Regions from separate parts of the Homo sapiens genome. Here region 2 is linked to region 1. The links come from fine-mapping of genetic effects on gene expression. A gene starts in region 1. The other region holds a variant in brackets. All regions are shown on one strand. Distances are from middle to middle.

Region 1 (11,054 bases):
CTCATGCCTGTAATCCCAGCACTTTGGGAGGCCAAGGCAGGTGGATCACCTGAGGTCGGGGGTTCGAGACCAGCCTAACCAACATGGAGAAACCCCATCTCTACTAAAAATACAAAATTAGCTGGGCATGGTGGTACATGCCTGTAATCCCAGCTACTCAGTAGGCTGAGGCAGGAGAATCACTTGAACCCGAGAGGCGGAGGTTGCAGTGAGGCGAGATCATGCCATTGCACTCCAGCCTGGGCAACAAGAGTGAAACTCCATCTCAGAAAAAATAAATAAGTAAATAAATAAATTACCTGGTTTTCTTATAACTGAATAAATGCTTACTTTTAAGTCAATCCTATAAAAATTGAGATAATATAAAAAACAGGAAGAATCATCACTTTTTACTAAGACGATCATTTGTAAGAGAACTCCAGGTTCCTAAACACACAAATGGCTAATGTGTTTAAGGTGTGTAGTTTTCCAAATAATTTTTTCTTCTATCAATAACATTCTTTTACCTATTTGACAATATAAAATTAACATTATTAGGCAAACAATTGTTCACTGCAGATGCCATTCTATTTTTCCCATTTTTAAACAATTGTGTATAGCATTACCATTGGTCTGAAGAGAAAAACTTATTCCCATCTTATTAATGGGATCGAAATTTTCATTTTCTTTTTTTTTTTTTTTTTTTTTTGAGACAGAGTCTCGCTCTGTCGCCCAGGCTAGAGTACAGTGGCGCAATCTCAGCTCGCTGCAAGCTCCGCCTCCCAGGTTCACGCCATTCTCCTGCCTCAGCCTCCCGAGTAGCTGGGACTACAGGCGCCCGCCACCTCGACCGGCTAATTTTTTGTATTTTTTTAGTAGAGACCGGGTTTCGCCATGTTCACCAGGATGGTCTTGATCTCCTGACCTCGTGATCCGCCCCCTCAGCCTCCCAAAGTACTGGGATTACAGGCCTGAGCCACCATGCCCGGCCGAAATTTTCATTTTCATTTCCAAACCAAAATCCCTGGAAAATCTTGCTTTGCCTGAGTACAAGAAGCCTAAATTTCCTGTCCTTTAGCCAATATAAGGTTAACAGTTAAGCATAATAATTGTCACACACAAAAAATAGAAAGCAGATGCAAGTTATTAGAGATAAAAAGGTAAAATTAAAACAAAGTTATAATTACTTTATAAAGTTTTTAATGAGGGAAATCAGAAGACAATTTTGTAACACGGTAAAACTACACCTTGAAATATAGAGTCCTTTTTCAAACAGTGCATTCCACATTAGATAAAAAATGGAACTGGAGAACAAAAACAAAACAAAAAGACGATGATGAAAAACTTAGGCAGGGCTGGGTGTTGGAGCTTACACCTGTATTCCCAACACTTTCGGAGCCTGAGGTGGGTAGATCACTTGAGCCCAGGAGTTCAAGACCAGCCTGGGCAACATGGCAAGGCCCATCTCTAAAAAATTTAATTAATTAATTAATTGAAAAATTTTTTAAAATGTAGGCAGGCAAAAAGCCTCAGGCCAATCCTAAACCTACAAAACATCAAAATCTTATGGTCAACTTTTATTATAAGGACACTCCTTTATTAGTTTGGAGGTTATGGTTTAATCAAACTGTAGATATATGCATATTCCTAATACCTGTATATCAGATTTCACTGGGTAACCAAAACAGCAAACTCTGAAAATGGTTATCTGAACGTTAATTTGTAAAAATAAGGGCCGGGAGCAGTGTGGCTCACGCCTGTAATCCCAGCACTTTGGGAGGCCGAGGAGGGTGGATCACGAGGTCAGGAGATCAAGACCATCCTGACTAACACGGCGAAACCCTGTCTCTACTAAAAATACAAAAATATTAGCCAGGCGTGGTGGCCGGCGCCTGTAGTCCCAGCTACTCGGGAGGCTGAGGCAGGAGAATGGCGTGAACCTGGGAGGCGGAGCTTGCAATGAGCCGAGATCGCGCCACTGCACTCCAGCCTGGGCGACAGAGCGAGACTCCGTCTCAAAAAAAAAAAAAAATTAATTAATTTTAAAAAAAATAAGGAACTTAATAGAACAGAGAGAGAGAAAAGCCCAACAAAATTTCAGCAAGGAAAAATACTGCCTACTAAGCTAGTGTTAGAACCTGTGCAATGTGAGTATTAAAAAAGAGGGAAAAGTCTGCCTATACTTGACAGTAGCTTCTAAGTTGATGCCAAAATGGCCAAAAATATCTCACTAAAATAATTCCTTCACCAAACATCAAAAGGCAAAGGTAGCACTCACAGGATATTAGTTCTAGCTCCAAGTCTTTCACAATGCATACAGTTCTACTTTCAAAGGGCCTTCCTAAGATACTTACATGTCAGTGGCACTACGACTGGGTTTATTAAGAGAACAGCCTTTACTTATCCTTTAAAGTATTCCTGGAGAAAGGACACCAACCAAGCAATTCAAGTCTGTAGGGGAGGGGAATCCGCAAATATGAATAGGTAATTTATTAAGCTTGTGAATTCATTGCAGAGATACTCTGGAATATATAGTCTTATCTGTCTCCTTGTTATCTTCTTACCCTCCAAAGATTCCAATTAGGCAAAGTCTCAAATGTTTACTCCTCTTTGAAAAGGACCTCAGTACCCCATTGTCATTGCCCTCGCCATCTCATCATTCTGCTTTTTTACTCTTCCCTTAATACAATATAAATACACCACGCCCATAACACCACACGCTCCACGCTCACACTCCATACATCTCTCCCCACAGAACCACCCAAAACATCCCATACTTAATGGTCCAACACCAATTAAAACAAAAACTCTACACGTCCCCCCATATAATACAGGAAACACTACACATTCCACACACATTGTAACCCAAGTCATTAATACCTCCAATCCCATTCAACCCGTACTTAACACATTCTACACACTCATGATAGCATATAAATTATACGCTTCTCCATAGCTCGCCACACACACACACACACGCCACGCACCGTATAAAAGCCTAAATGACACACCACTGCAGCGTTCAAACGCTGGGAAGAAGACTCCCTTGTGGCACCGGAAACCCACGAGGTTGGAAGTGGGAGGGGAAGAGGGCCAGATACTTCACCTGAAAATCCGCCAGGATCATCTCCCGGTCCATGTTGGACGCCATGGCGGCCGCCGAGTTCCGCGGCTCCGGGAGCGAAGCGCGCACCTGGGAGGCAGACGGCACCTCCTGCGACCGTCGCCGCCACCGCCGCCGCCGCCGCCGGGCGCCGAGGGGCTGGCGGGCGAGCCGGCGGGCGGGTCGGCGGGCCAGCGGGCGGGGCAGCGCGGGAAGCGCTAGGCGCTCATGCACTCGGTAACCTTCAGGCGCCCCGGCCGCCCGCCTGCAACCTGCGGAGCCCGCGTCGCAGCAGCCCGGACAGGAAGATTGGTCTGGATGTGGGTCCGGTCTTACAGTCGCGGGCCAGGATGAGGGCAGGTTGCGACAGCGCGCACCCGGATACCTTCAGCGGCGTTAAGCCCGGCGGGGGCGGGGAAACCGAGCGAGCGAGCGGGCGGGCGAACGCCGCGGCCGCCTCCGCCTCCTCCGCTTCCTCCCTGGCCGCCGCCTCCGCCCCTGGTTGGCCAGCGCCACGGCTGTCGCACATTTTGCCTGTCATCGAGGTCGCAAAGCGCCGCTTTGCGGCTCCACGTGACCACCCTCCTGTCAAGCGCTGAGCGCGCGACTACCCGGCCAGGATCTCTGCGCTGGCGGCAGAGACTGCAACCTGCAGCTGCGGAAGCTTCAAGTCTCGCAACAGGTTATTCCAGTTTGGATTTAAGCAAAGGCCTCAGGATAGCGCCTCCCCCTAGCTGAGGCGGGGACCAGATTGTGCACCTCACGTGGTTAGTCACACAAATACACACCACCCTCACAAACCAACTAAACACACTGTTACAACTCGTCTAACAAACAGCATTTCAGAAATATATGTTTTTCTCTACAATGTTTCAGCAAAATACAGCTTCATATAGTCTCTCACGCTCAACCTGTCAAAACCGAATCCACACTGTCACACCCAGTCCCAAGCTCCCTGACGTCTGCATCCTCAGACTCCGTAACACAGAAGTAACCAGACTGCCATGGTAGACATGGGAGAGACGAGGAAGCTGAGAAAGGTAAAAATCTCGTTCCAGAGAAGAGGAGGAGCATTTTTTTTAATTGATAAGGTAGTTATGAGAAATAACAACCTCGAGTTAATAGGGTTGCTCCAAAGGGGGAAAAAAGGGAAAACCTTTCTACTGCTGCAGTTATATTTGTTTTTTTAAGCTGAGACATCTTACAAATGGGATAAAACTTGAATCCAGCTTTGAATATAGTCAGTCTATTTTTATTTATTTATTTATTTATTTATTTATTTATTATTTTGAGACGGAGTCTCGCACTGTGGCCCGGGCTGGAGTGCAGTGGCGCGATCTCGGCTCGCTGCGACCTCCGCTTTCTGGGTTCAAGCGATTCTCCTGCCTCAGCCTCCATAGTAGCTGGGATTACAGGCTCCCGCCACCAAGCCCGGCTAAGTTTTTTTTGTATTTTTAGTAGAGACGGGGTTTCACTATGTTGGGCAAGCTGATCTCGAACTCCTGTCCTCGTGATCCGCCCTCCTCGGCCTCCCAAAGTGTTGGGATTACAGGCGTGAGCCACTGCACCCGGCCTATTCATTTTCATAAGAAATTATTTTGGAATATTCACCAAATATTGAAAGTTTCAACCCATGGTCAGAAATTGACAACCTCTGTAACTAAAACAGCCAAAGACTATGTACAATGAAGTGTGACAGTTTGTAATTGTCGTCCAGGTTAGAGAAAGTGTGACAGTGGAAGTTGTTCATCCTTGACTTGGGAAAATATCAGCTTCTGGATTGTCATGGGGCATTTACTTGCTTTGGAAAGTATGTAAAAGCTTGAAAATGTGAAGTAAGATTGCTGATTTTATCCTGTAGAGCTAAAATAACTAGTGAAATCATCATGTAGCATGAAGGCCTAGGCTTCCCTTAAGAACTTTTTAAACTTGTATCATTTATTTACTTTTTTAGAGACAGGGCCTCACTATGTTGCCCAGGCTGGCTTCCAACTCCTGTGCTCAAGCCATCCTCCCACCTCAGCCTCCTGAGAGTGGGGATTACAGGTGTGAGCCATACCACCACACCCAGCAAGGCCTAGGCTCCATAAACTGGGAATATATTCATGAGAAATCAGAAATATGACCTAATTGTTCAGTTTCACTGAATATAAAGAAGTGCACTGTATTATGATCTGAGTTTATTCTGTGTGTTTCCTTAAATGAAAATAGGCTGGCCTACAGTTCTTAAGTACTAATCTGTGTTTAGACCAGAATTAGCTAGATAATAGAACCCTCCACAGTCACATGAATCAAAATGTCTTGCTTAATTTTCAGCCGTAAGAAAATAATTCCATGGCCAGGGCAGTGGCTTATGCCTATAATCCCAACACTTTGGGAGGCCGAGGCAGGCAGATCACTTGAGGTCAGGAGTTCAAGACCAGCCTGGCCAACATAGTGAAATCCCATCTCTGCTAAAAATAATACAAAAATTAGCTGGGCATGGTGGCATATGCCTGTAGTCCCAGCTACTAGGGAGGCTGAGGGAGGAGAATCACCTGAACCTGGGAGGTGGAGGTTGCAGTGTGAACCAAGATCACACTACTGCACCCCAGCCTGGGTGACAGAGTAAAACTGTTTCAAAATAAATAAATAAATATTTTTTTAAAAAGAAAGTAATTCCAAAAGTCAGCACAAATGTGAATCATGAGGCAAAACACAGCACCAATAATATAAATGTGGCAATTCAGTTGCCCCATTCATATAGGCCACCCTCAGTATAAGGCAGGTGAATAATTGTTTCTAGTTATATGGCCAAGGATTAATGCAGTCCTAAAAAGTTGAGAGTTTTTCTCTGTAATGATGCGTGTGTACCTCAGAACCCATTCAAATCCCATGTTGCTCCCTTTTTCTTTCCTTTCTCTCCATCTGGAAATTAAAACAATGTGGTATGTAGAACAATGGGATGAACACACTAGACATTCAGGCATATATTAGTACTGCTTTTCCAAATAATTAGCTGAGGGAACTTGGATGAGTCATTTAATCTCTCTGACTTCAGCTACTCACAGGACTATTTCCTCTGATAAATGAAAAAACAATTATGAAAATGCATGGAAAATATAAAATATTGGTATCACACTAACATAAATTTAATAGTCAATAATTGTGGTTTGAGTTCTAACTCTGCTCTTTAACAAAGGCTCTCTGGTTCTATTTCTTTATCTCTAAAATTGGGCTAAAAAGCTTGTGATTTTGAATGTTGAATGATCAAATGCTTGTGAAAATTCCTCATAAACCTTAAAACTCTCCAAACATATTAGTTATTACTCTGTATACCAATTCCTAAATGCTTTTCTCAGGACCACCCCTTTCATAAAATTTAAGCCAGTAAGGATCTTTCTCCTTTCTAATTACTGCTTTTACTATCTTTACAACACAACTTAGTGCTCCAGTAAATTTTGTAATTTTTTTCTCTAATTGTTTTCATATATGTATGTTTAATCTCCCCCCAAAGGTTGAAAGTTTCTTGAGATTATAAACCGCTTTATGCCATGTGTTTTTATATTCACCATAGTGCAAACATAGCAAAGTCTTGTGAACATAACAGATGGCAAATGCTTTTGAATTTATTAATTTTTATTGGGAGTCTACTATGTACAGATACATTACAAACTTTATCTCATTTAATATTTACAACTACTACTTTACAGAATATAAAGCTGCTCTGGCAAGTTAAGAATTTGCTCAAAGTCATGCTACAGAGTGACAGACCTAGGATTCAAGACTAGGTCAAATTAGTGCTCCTTCCACTTACCATGTTGCCTCTGTACAATTTCCCTTCCATGCTGCTTAGTTTATACCATTCCCAAAGACACTGTTTCTTCCCTATGGCCTAACTCTTCATGGTTGGATACCTAGCATCCAGAGTGGTTATCTACTACAGATAAGAGAAGGGAAGAAAAATAAATACTGAATTAGGAGAAAAAAAATCATTTTTCATTTCTCCAGAATTCCATCCTTAAGAGAAACAATTTCAGTTAAGTGTCATAAACCAAAAGAAGGAAATGTAAAGAAATTTGGTCCATGCACGAGCAAAGAAAAGTAATTTTAATTTATCTATTCTCATAGTTGGCCCACAGTAGTTCATGGAGCTCAGCCTAAGTTAAATACAGATCTTTTTCTAGAATCTCCATGTTCTTTTAAAAGAAACTTTTATATCATCTTTATTTCCAATATAAATAATAAATATTATTTATATTTTACTAAATTTTTATTTGAAATTATTTTAGAATACTTCCAAAGACAGTACAGAATGTTCCTATATGCTTTTAGCCCATTTTTCTCTAATGTTACCATCTTATTTAACATGGTACATCTATCAAAACTAGGAAATTAACACTGCTAAATACTACTAGTTAAATTCTGGAGGCTCTATTTGGATTTTTACACTAATGTCCTTTTCTTGTTCCATGGTCCAATAATACCACATTACATTTAGTTGTCATGTCTCAGTAGCCTCTTCCAATCTGTGACAGTTTCTCAGTGGACACTTCTGAAGAGTCAGGAACTTTATAAAATCTCCCTCAATCTGGGATTACCTAATGTATTCTCAGAATTACACTGAGATGTGTATCACCGCAGAGGTGATATGTCCTTGTTACATCATATCAAGGCCATGTGTTATCAACTTGAGTTATTACTGGTAGTGATAACCTTGATTCTTTGGTTAAGATAACCAATTTCTTAAATAATACTTCTTGCTCATAATGTAATTCATGAGAAAACTAATGCTACTGCACATATGTATTTCATCTAGTGATTTAGTGTTGTTTAGGATACTAGTGGCGGACCCTGGACTAATGGAAAAAGTATAAGGTTTGGAGCCCCAAGAACTGAATTCAAATCCTATGTCTAGTATTCACTGACTTTAAATCACAATTTCTGCCAGCCTCAATTCCCTCACCTGAAATACGGGGATTATTATCACAGTCACTTCACAGAATTGTTGTAAAGATTAATATATGCATTGGCTGTGTGTGGTGGCTCACACCTGTAATCCCAGCACTTTGGGAGGCCAAGGTGGGCGGATCATGAGGTCAGGAGTTCGAGACCAGCCTGACCAACATGGTGAAACCCTGTCTCTACTAAAGATACAAAAATTAGCCGGGCGTGGTGGTGCGCACCTGTAATCCCAGGTACTCGGGGGCTGAGGCAGAAGAATTGCTTGAACCTAGGAGGCAGAGATTGGAGTGAGCTGAGATCGCGCCACTGCACTCTGCCTGGGCGACAAAGCGAGATTCAGTCTCAAAAATATAGATAGATAGATAGATAGATAGATAGATAGATAGATAGATATGCATCATATTTTATAACCATGAAACACTATACAAATATTAATTGTTGCTATTATTTTTCAGCTTTTGGGTTGCTTACTGGGCTTTTTTTCCTTCTTACTTTAACGAAGAACTTTCAGGCCGGGTGCGGTGGCTCACACCTGTAATCCTAGCACTGTGGGAGGCTGAGTCGGGCAGATCATGAGGTCAGGAGATGGAGACCATCCTGGCCAACGTGGTGAAACCCCATCTCTACTAAAAATACAAAAATTAGCTGGGTGTGGTAGTGGGCGCCTGTAATCCCAGCTACTCAGGAGGCTGAGGCAGGAGAATGGCTTGAATTTGGAGGTGGAGGTTGCAGTGAGCCGGGATCGCGCCACTGCACTCCAGCCTGATGACAGAGAGAGACTCTGTCTCAAAAAAAAAAGAACTTTCAGCCTGGCCAATATAGTAAGACCCCATCTCCACAAAATTAGAAAAATTATCCAGGCATGGTGGAGCATGCCTGTGGTCCCAGCGACTCCAGAGGCTGAGGTAGGAGGGTCACTTGGACCTGGGAAGTCAAGGCTTCAGTGAGCCATGATCATGACCAAGCCACTGCACTCTAGCCTGGGCAACAGAGTGAGAACCTGTCTCAAAAATAAAATAAAATAAAAATAATAAAAAATTTTCATAAATAAGTACCTATATGAAAAAAACCACTGAATCTCAGAAATAAAATGCTGAAGCTACAATTATAAAGTCACATAAAAGGCTGCCTGGGGGTGCCCAGTCTGTTTTCCACCTCTGTTGATCTATAAATACAACAAAAAGGAAAACTTTGAGACCAGTTAAATAAATGGTAAATACCACATACACATTTCCAAAAGTTAATCATTCAGAAACTGTACCTACTTGAGTCAATGAGGGAAAAGCACAGAATAATTTGACTGAATCACATTTCTATTCTATGTCAATGAGGGAAAAGCACAGAATAATTTGACTGAATCACATTTCTATTCTATGTCTCTTTTTTTTTTTTTTTTTGAGACTGCTGGGCCGCCACTGCCTCCCAGGTTCAAGCAATCCTCCTGCCTCAGCCTCCTGAGCAGCTGGGATTACAGGCGCCAGCCACCACGCCCAGCTAATTTTTTTTTGTATTTTTAGTGGAGTTGGGGTTTAACCATGTTGGCCAGGCTGGTCTCGAACTCCTGACCTCAGGTGATCTGCCCACCTCAGCCTCCCAAAATGCTGGGATTATAGGCGTGAGCCACTGCGCCCGGCCACTTCTATGTCTCCTTAAATGATTATGAACTGCTGGAGCAAAAGGTTTCCATGACTGTTAATATTTAATATCTAACTATAAAGGCTATATTTCAGTATTTGATGTACTTATCATTTTGATGTTAAAAAGGAAAGCACCACTCTCAATATAGTAGAAACTTAACTATGAATTTTTCTTGTAAGCCATGTTAGAATATAAGCTTATTGAGGGTAGAGATACCCTTGAATCTGCTGTAGTGAACTAGCCCTCAATAAATACTAGATTTTCATTGGAGTTACTGTGTAATACTTATGTATGCCTTCTGAACTAAGACCCTAAGCTCTGCACTGCCAATTCTGGTTTACCCAACAGGCAGATGAAGCATATGCTTCAGGGCACCAGCAAAACCAGAATGTTAAAAAAAAAAAAAAAACCTTTGCCAAATAATTTAATATCTCAGCAAAACCACTGAAGTAGCCATCATGGGAAAAAAATCAGAACTTTGTTGGACTTTTTTACTGTTATTTTGGGGTTCTGTTATTTTTCTTTTTATTTCTATATAAGGAAGAGGTGGTAGAACATCAAAATCTTTTCAGTGCTTAGGGCCTCCAAAAATCTTAATACAACTCTGTGTACATCTTAAATTATCATAAGTTTTCCTTAGTTGTTCAGCAATAAGCATTTTATTTCATGAAAATTATAGTACGTTTACCCGTACTTTATGTAATCATACAATTTAAGATTCTTCCTCTTTACAATTTATCTCTAAGCAAGAAACCATAATAAATGCTAGAAGGCAATCCTCATAAATTGGACTAATACCAGTTCTCTTTTATCAGCCAACAGTGCTAATATGTCCTCACACCCTCTGGCTGTATGAAAAGATTACACAGTTCCCAGAATAATCAAAAGTAAATTATTATTTATTTCTTACTGGTATAAATGGAATCTTAAATGTTTCTATTTGAAACGTCTACATATATGTAAGAAAAAGAGAGTTAATTTCTTGTTTTGTAGTTCTCATTTGATTCACAATTCAAGTTTAGTTACCTAAGAAAAGAACTCTAGTTTTTTTCTCAACAATTACATTAAAGAAAACACTGCCAGATTCTTCCCAGTTTCAACTTTCCCTCTACCTACCAATCTCTTGCTGGATGATTACCCAGATATTTCTGGTGTGTTTTGTTGCTAATACTCCCAGTGTACTTCAAGAAGGGTACAGATACTGCTTGAGGATCCGCTTGCCAAAGGCCGGTTCTAATTAGACTTGTCATTTTTTGCTTGGTTTCATTTTGACCACTGGGTGCATCATGCAACCGTGTTGGATATTTTTAAGAGTATAAAAATACAGAAAGCAATAGTTAATTAATCTCACATAGCTAAAAGAGGAAGTTAAAAGTACTGGAAATTGGTG
Region 2 (8,000 bases), 310 kb before region 1:
TTGTAGATAAAGAAACTGAAGCTCAAACATTAAGTAACATCTAAATAATAGTAATGTTAGGATTCAACAAACTTGGACTGGTTTGCTCAATTGCATTCTCCTCCACCTCCATTTCCTCTGCCTCCCACCCATACATATATACACACACACACATTGGTAAAAATCGGCTCACAATGTAGCTCTGCACACTCCTAAATCTGTTATTCTACTTGCTGCTATAAAATGCTTAGTTTTGATAACTTAATTTTTATTAGAAATAAATGATTCTCAAAATGTTTATCCAATTACTATACTCATACAAATCGATCCTTTAGTTGTTTATTGCCATAGATGTCAACTTTGTGGAGCACTGAACAATTTAAATAAATGAATGCAATTTAAATAAATGCCTAAAACACTCTTTGATATAAATGTGAAGACATTTCTTACTTCCAATGCTTATAATTTACAAAAGGAGGAATACAAGTATACAAATTAAAACATAATCAAATGTCCCTTTCACTGAGAAGTCATTTTTTCACTACCACTAACTGTTAGCAAAATTGGTTGTTCCCTCTTCTATGATCCCATTGCATTTATATACTTCAGTTGTCATTGTTTATATATGTCTCCCACCAAACTCATCAATCTCTGAGAAGCAAGATCTTATCATTGCAACTTTAAGGGCCAGCACAGTTACTGGCCTGTAAGAGTTGTTAAAGCGAACTAAATATGATCTCAGAAGGACTCTATTTCTTCTTCTTTCTTTTGAGACATAGTCTCGCTCTGTTACCCAGGCTGGAGTACAGTGGCATGCTCTTGGCTCACTGCAACCTCCGCCTCCTAGGTTCAAGCAATTCTTGTGTCTCAGCCTCCTGAGTGTCTGGGATCACATGTGTGAGCCACCACGCCCAGCTAATTTTTTTTGTATTTTTAGTAGAGACAGGGTTTCACCATGTTGGCCAGGCTGGTCTCAAACTCCTGGTCTCAAGCAATCCACCTGCCTCAGCCTCCCAAACCGCTGGGAGTATAGGCATGAGCCACCATGCCCAGCCTAGGGCTCCGGACTTCTACATTTGAGTCCTGGTGGAGGAAGCTTAACCTAACTTAATAGGTAGACAAGACTGAAAACCTAACTTATGAGCATATGCCTATAATAATAGTTAAGTCTTGGCCAATCTCAGCAGCCATTCTTCAACCACTGATACACTGCTAAATGTTCAAACTGTTTCCAAATAAGGCAAATGCCAACCTGTAACCAATACAGCTGTTTCTGTACCTCGCTTCTTTCTGTACGTCACTTTCCTTTTTTTGTCTATAAATTTGTTCTAACCACGAGGCATTCCTGGAGTCTCTCTGAATCTGCTATGATTCTGGAGGCTGCCAATTTGCGAATCATTTTTTTTTCTTGTTCAATTAAACTCTGTTAAATTTAATTTGTCTGAAGTTTTCTTTTAACAGAGTTGTTCCACAAATGTCAAGTGAATGAATAGATAGATTAAAACAATAAATAAAACACAGTAATAGCCAAAAGTCAACCATGTTAAGGCATTCTTTCTAGTACATACTACTTCAGTCTTCAAAATAAACCTAGCAGTAAGTATTCTTGTAACTACTGACTCTTTAATCTTCACAATAACTCTACGAGTTATTGTTCGACAGTTACGGAGACTGAGATCCATAGACATTAAGTTGCTTGTGGTGACCCAGATGAAGCCAGAGAGGAGGAAGGAAGGGAGAAATGAAGGAAACAAATAACAAAATAAGAAAAAAGTGAAAAAAACTTAAGTAGAAGAAGAGAACTATAAATGCATTTCTAAGAGGGTTGGAGAAGGCAGCACGGGAAGAAGGGCATAGGCAGGGTTTCTCAAAGAAAAGGTCTTGGCTGGGCGCGGTGGCTCACGCCTCCAATCCTGGCACTTTGGGAGGCCGAGGCAGGTGGATAACCTGAGGTCAGGAGTTAGAGACCAGCCTGGCCGACATAGTGAAACCCCGTCTCTACTAATAATACAAAAATTAGCTAGGCACAGTGGCACACGCCTGTAATCCCAGCTATGAGGAGGCTGAGGCAGAAGAATTGCTCGAACCCCGGAGACAGAGGTTGCAGTGAGCCGAGATCGTGCCATTGCACTCCAGCCTGGGTGACAAGAGTGAAACTCCGTCTCAAAACAAAACAAAACAAAACAAAACAAAAAAACAAAAAGGTCTTCAAGGAAGGAGATAATTGTTGTAGGTATTCTAGGTGGAAGGAAGAGTATGATTAAATGACAGAGTGGGAGAGTACCAAGTATATTCGAAAAATAGTAAGATAAGTATTTAGCTAAAGCTGAGACACATATGGTGTAATATTCAATCATTCATTCAACAAATATTTATCAAGTATTTACTCAGAGCCTGTATGGGAAAACAAACCTGGAAGGGAAGTTTCAGACTAAAGAATGAAGGGTTTTGAATGCCAGCATAAAAATCTGTACATAAAGGAGCCATTGAAAATAAGTAAGCAAGGCTGAATGTGATTCATGTTGTACTTCTATTTAGAAATATTAACTTTGGCTGGGCGCGGTGGCTCATGCCTGCAATCCCAGCACTTTGGGAAGCCGAGGTAGGCGGATCACCTGAGGTAGGAAGTTCAAGACCAGCCTGACCAACATGGAGAAGCCCCAGCTCTACTAAAAATATAAAATCAGCTGGGTGTGGTGGCGCATGCCTGTAATCCCAGCTACTCGGGAAGCTGAGGTAGGAGAATCACTTGAACCCAGGAGGCGGAGGTTGCGGTGAGCCAAGATCGTGCCATTGCACTCCAGCCTGGGTAACAAGAGCGAAACTCCATCTCAAAAGTTAGGGGGCCTGGCCCTAATTGTTTGTAACTTTAGTAGAGACAGGTTTCAATACGTTGGCCAGGCTGGTCTCGAACTCCTGACCTCGTGATCCGTCTGCCTTGGCCTCCCAAAGTGCTGGGATTACAGGTGTGAGCCACCGTGTCCAGCCTTCAGATTCATTTCTATTTAAGAGTGGGGTGGGGAGAGGGCTGTGTGCAGTTTTCATTTTATGTATTTATTCATTTTAATTTTTTTTTTTTTAGACAGAGTTTTGCTCTTGTTGCCCAGGCTGGAGTGCAATGGCGCAATCTCTCACTGCAACCTCCGCCTTCCGGGTTCAAGCAATTCTCTTGCCTCAGCCTCACAAGTAGCTGGGATTACAGGCATGCGCCACACACCTGGCTAATTTTGTATTTTCAGTAGAGATGGGGTTTCTCCATGTTGGTCAGGATGGTCTTGAACTCCTGACCTCAGGTGATCCACCCATCTTGGCCTCCCAAAGTGCTGGATTACAGGTGTGAGCCATTGTGCCTGGCTCTTTTTATTTTATATAAAAGCCACTGTGTAATGGTTTTACTTGTAAATTATTTCACATTCTCAATGTGAAAATATTTAATAAGTAGCTTTCTGAATCCTAACACACGCCCAAAGAGCTTTGATTCTAAAATTCCTAGTTTCTCAATTCTGAGTGAATATTTTGTGGCCAATGACAGAAATACAGAAGAGCATTAGTAATCAAGAAAGAAAAGTCTGGGCACAGTGCCTCATGCCTGTAATCCCAGCACTTTGACAGGCCGAGGCAGGTGGATCACAAGGTCAGGAGTTCAAGACCAGCCTGGCCAACTTATGAAACCGCGTCTCTACTAAAACTACAAAAAAAAAAAAAAAAGAAAAAGAAAAAAATTAGCTGGGTATGATGGCACGTGCCTGTAGTCCTAGCTACTCGGGAGGCTGAGGAGGGACAATTGCTTGAACCTGGGAGGTGGAGGTTGCAGTGAGCCAAGACCATGCCATTGCATTCTAGCCTGGGGGTGACAGAGTAAGACTCCGTCAAAGAGAGAGAGAGAGAAAGCACAATAATAAAGTATTAAGCTGGGCACGGTGGCTCATGCCTGTAATCCCAGCACTCTGGGAGGCCGAGGTGGGCGGATCACCTGAGGTCGGGAGTTCGAGACCAGCCTGACTAACATGGAGAAACCCCATGTCTACTAAAAATACAAAATTAGCCGGGCGTGGTGGTGCATGCCTGTAATCCCAGCTACTCGGGAGGCTGAGGCAGGAGAATCGTTTGAATCCGGAAAGCAGAGGCTGCGGTGAGCCGGGATCACACCATTGCACTCCAGCCTGTGCAACAAGAGCGAAACTCTGTCTCAAAAAAAAAAAAAAAAAAAAAGTAATAAAACTGAAAGAGTTGGCCGGGCACAGTGGCTTAGGCTTGTAATCCCAGCACTTTGGGAGGCCGAGGTGAGGATCACTTGAGGCCAAGAGTTCGAGGCCAAAAGTTCAAGACCAGCCTGGCCAACACAGCGAAACCCTGTCTCTACTAAAAATACAAAAATGAGCTGGGCATGGTGGTATACGCCTGTAATCCCAGCTACTTGGGATGCTGAGGCATAAGAATCACTTGAACCTGGGAGGCAGAGGTTGCAGTCAGCTGAGATCTCACCACCGCACTCCACCCTGGGTGACAGAGCAAGACTGTCTCAAAAAAATATATAAATAAAAATAAAAACAAAAAACTGAAAGAGTTTTCTTTGTATAAGCATTATTAAATCCAGGAATTTAAAAAGAACTACATGTATTCATATTGTCTGCATTGTAATAAGGTATCTAAACATAATTCACAGTGTTAAAATTATTTCTCCTATCTAGAAACCAAGAGCTTCCTTGTTAAAGTGTAAAATGAGATTTTGCCTACTTGTAACTCCTTGTTCTCACAGCTGAACTGTCACAGCATGAAAACATTTTCCTACTGGTAAAGCTTTAGATACCTATTTCCCTGATCAAAGAGTACAAAAGGAACGGAGTTACTGACAATTCATACAGTATCCCACACCCTATTCGAGTACAACCACAAGCAAAGAAAATACGTTAACTCTGAAGGGAGATGGGCAACAATGTTGTAAATGAGTGTTGACTTCACTGAGTAAC[C/G]TGAAAATGCCCAAGACTGAAGTCTATTAGGTTCATAAGAGACTCAAGATTATAAAAGAATTGATTACAAGAGGTCTATTTCTTTCTCCTGTTGGGTGAGTCAAAGGTTAATGAGAAGTATACTGAACAAAACATCTCTTGTGTTACTGCAAAGTATTTCTCATGCAGGATAAAAATGTAAGTGAAAAAGTATTTTAATCTAGTTAATTAACTTCTTTTTTAAAAAAATAGCTTCACTGAGGCATAATTTATATGCCATAAAATTCACTCATTTTAAATGTTCAATTATTTTTTAAAACTTTAGAGATGTGCAACCTTTACCACAATCTAATTTTTAGAACATTTTCATCACCCCAAATCCATTAATTTCTTGATCTATGGTATTTTCATAAATTCACAGAATCCAATGATATCTAAGGCTACTGTATATTTAAAGCCACACAAATTTCTTCAACTGAGCAATAAAAGTACAAAATGACCTCACTTTTAATGACCTTTATAACCAATCCTCTACTCTGGCACTAGGAAGCAAATGTTCAGGTGCTTTCTCTGAAAGTTAAACCATTCTAAGTATTAAGTTATGGCACACTGTCTTGGAAAGAAATTAATTATATTTTTGTTGGTAACACATTTCAGGCTGTTTACACAGCTGACATTTCTCAGCTGTACCCAATTCATGCCCTAAGCTGTGAGGACTATTTTGTTTTGTAGCAGATGCCTCCACTTGAATGATTTCAGTAAGTATAAAAACACCACCGCCTGCAACAAATATAGACTACAAGTACCAGTTTTATGAGTTTTTATACTCCTAATGAAAAAGGTTTTACGACATATTATTTGGCCAGGATCTCCTCAGAATACTAGTTATAAGCCATTTTTGGCTAAATTCAAGCACTGGAGCTAGTGAATCTGCTGTGGCATCAGTTAAAAGCAGCCTGGCCCTAAACATCTTTGTTGTATCAAATCATGCAAGCTCAAGGCAACACCCTGCCAATGCCGCAACATTTGCTCTGGGGAGGTGTGGGCAGGCACCACTTCACAGGTTCTGGGACAAGGTGCAAATGGCAATAATGAGGCTAAAAGAATCAAGCCTCTTAATAGGGATTCCCTCTTGTGTTTGCTGTGACTTAAGAGCACCAAGTAGTATTACAGTCTTGGAAACAAACAGTTTTAGCTGCTTTCCATATTTTCCTATAGTAATTAGACTGCATGACAACTCTTTGGCAAAAAATTAAATGTTATAAAAACCATTAAAACATGGGTCTCATAAAAGACCATGCCAACTCAATTCAATGAATTAGCACCTAAAATGTATAAGGCACTATTTTACAGGCAGAAGAATTGATCATATTTCATCGACTTTGCCTATCATTCTTGGAACTTGTACCTGATAAGCCAATTTCAGTCTGGTTTCTACAAGGGTGGGGTGCAAAAGCAGTTGGCTTTTCCAACCCTGTGAAGCCCCACATTTCCAGAGTTTCTCTATTATCTTATGTCCCTGCTCTTAAACAAGACAACTATTTTTGCTTTAAACTTTTTATTATGAAAATTTTCAAATATATACAAAAGTTGAGAGAACAGTATAATAAACCCAATATATGTATCACCTAGATTCAACAATGATTGATAGATGCCTAATCTAAATTAGCTCTATCCTCACTCACTCTGCCACACATAGGTTATTCTGAAGCAAGTCTCAGACATCACTTCATTTCTTTAAACCAGCCAATTCTTGCCTGTAATTGTAATCTGTAATTACAATAACTTTTTTTGCAGTTATCTTAATTATAATGTCGACTCATTTACTGAGTGTCTACTATGAGCCAGGTACTGTATTTATATTATCACTTATCTTCATAATAGTTCTGCAAATTAGTGACAAAATTAAAGCTCAGAGAATTTAATGATATGCTCAGGTCTTAATTATCTTCTTCTATTAATATTACTATTTCTTGTAACAAGTTCTTAGACAATACTGAGAACATTTCTGTTTTCTTCATGCCTCCTCAGGTAAACAGTAGACCATCATGTATGAACATTATTCTTTTATTTTTGTAAAAATAAAGGTAGCACATTTTCTATCAAATTTCTCACTCAAGCAAGAAAAACAACAAAAAAAAAACCACAAGAAAACCACAAACACATCCCTATCCTTAGCCATAGATGACCAGCCAATAATTCTAATTATATACTATAACATCAATGCTAAAATCAGTTTTTCAGAAACAAATTTAAGCACCTAAACCTAAAGATTTTTTTTTCTGGAAGTGTTTATTAAAAATAAAGGGGCTTTTGTTTTTGTTTTTCAGATGGAGTTTTGCTCTTATTGCCCAGTGGAGTGCAATGGCACAATCTTGGCTCACTGCAACCTCCCCCTCCCAGGTTCAAGTGATCCTCCTGCTTTAGCCCCCCAAGTAGCTGGGATTAAAGTCACAAGCCACCACGCCCGGCTAATTTTGTATTTTTGGTAGAGACAGGGTTTCACCATGTTGGCCAGGCTGGTTTCAAACTCCTGACCTCGGCCAGGCACGGTGGCTCATGCCTGTAATCTCAGCACTTTGGGAGGCCGAGGCAGGCTGGTCACCTTAGGTCAGGAGTTCAAGACCAGCCTGGCCTACTTGGTGAAACTTCGTCCTTATTAAACATACAAAAATTACCCGGGTGTGGCGGCAGGCGCCTATAATCCCAGCTACTTGGGAGGCTGAGGCAGGAGAATCAATCGCTTGAACCCAGGAGGTGGAGGTTGCAATGAGCCAAGATTGTGTCATTGTACTCCAGACTGGGCGATAGAGCAAGATTCCAAGTCAAAAATAAATAAATAAACAAACTCCTGACCTCAGGTAATCCACCGGCTTCGGCCTCCCAAAGTGCTGGGATTACAGGTGTGAGTCACCGTGCCTGACCAAAAATAAAGGTTTTGCTATTTTCTGATTATTAAAGTTTCTGATTTTTAAAATTTCATAATCCACAAAGCATGTTCCAAAGGCATACTGTTTACATTGTAATTAGATTCAAGTAGCATCTACATAAATTGTCTTAAAACTTTTCTGT

What was found. PIP is the estimated chance that this variant, and not a neighbour inherited with it, causes the effect.
Region 2: its variant is the best candidate, but not a certain one, in a credible set for the expression of FAF1 in blood mononuclear cells (TOPMed, PIP 0.61).

The regions. Positions count from the first base shown.
Region 1 is chr1:50,956,682-50,967,735 of GRCh38, forward strand. FAF1 (Fas associated factor 1) reads right to left here and starts at 3,586. Exons shown (of 19, transcript NM_007051.3): 1 at 3,086-3,586. The coding sequence starts at 3,130. It also overlaps a transcript of CDKN2C not described here. RefSeq lists an enhancer at 2,873-2,922 and silencers at 3,233-3,282, 3,393-3,552.
Region 2 is chr1:50,646,115-50,654,114 of GRCh38, forward strand. The region is part of intron 8 of FAF1 (Fas associated factor 1); the gene reads right to left. Among named protein-coding and RNA genes, the nearest start is that of FAF1-AS1, 210 kb to the left of the region's middle. The variant C/G (reference allele first, on the strand shown) is at 4,950.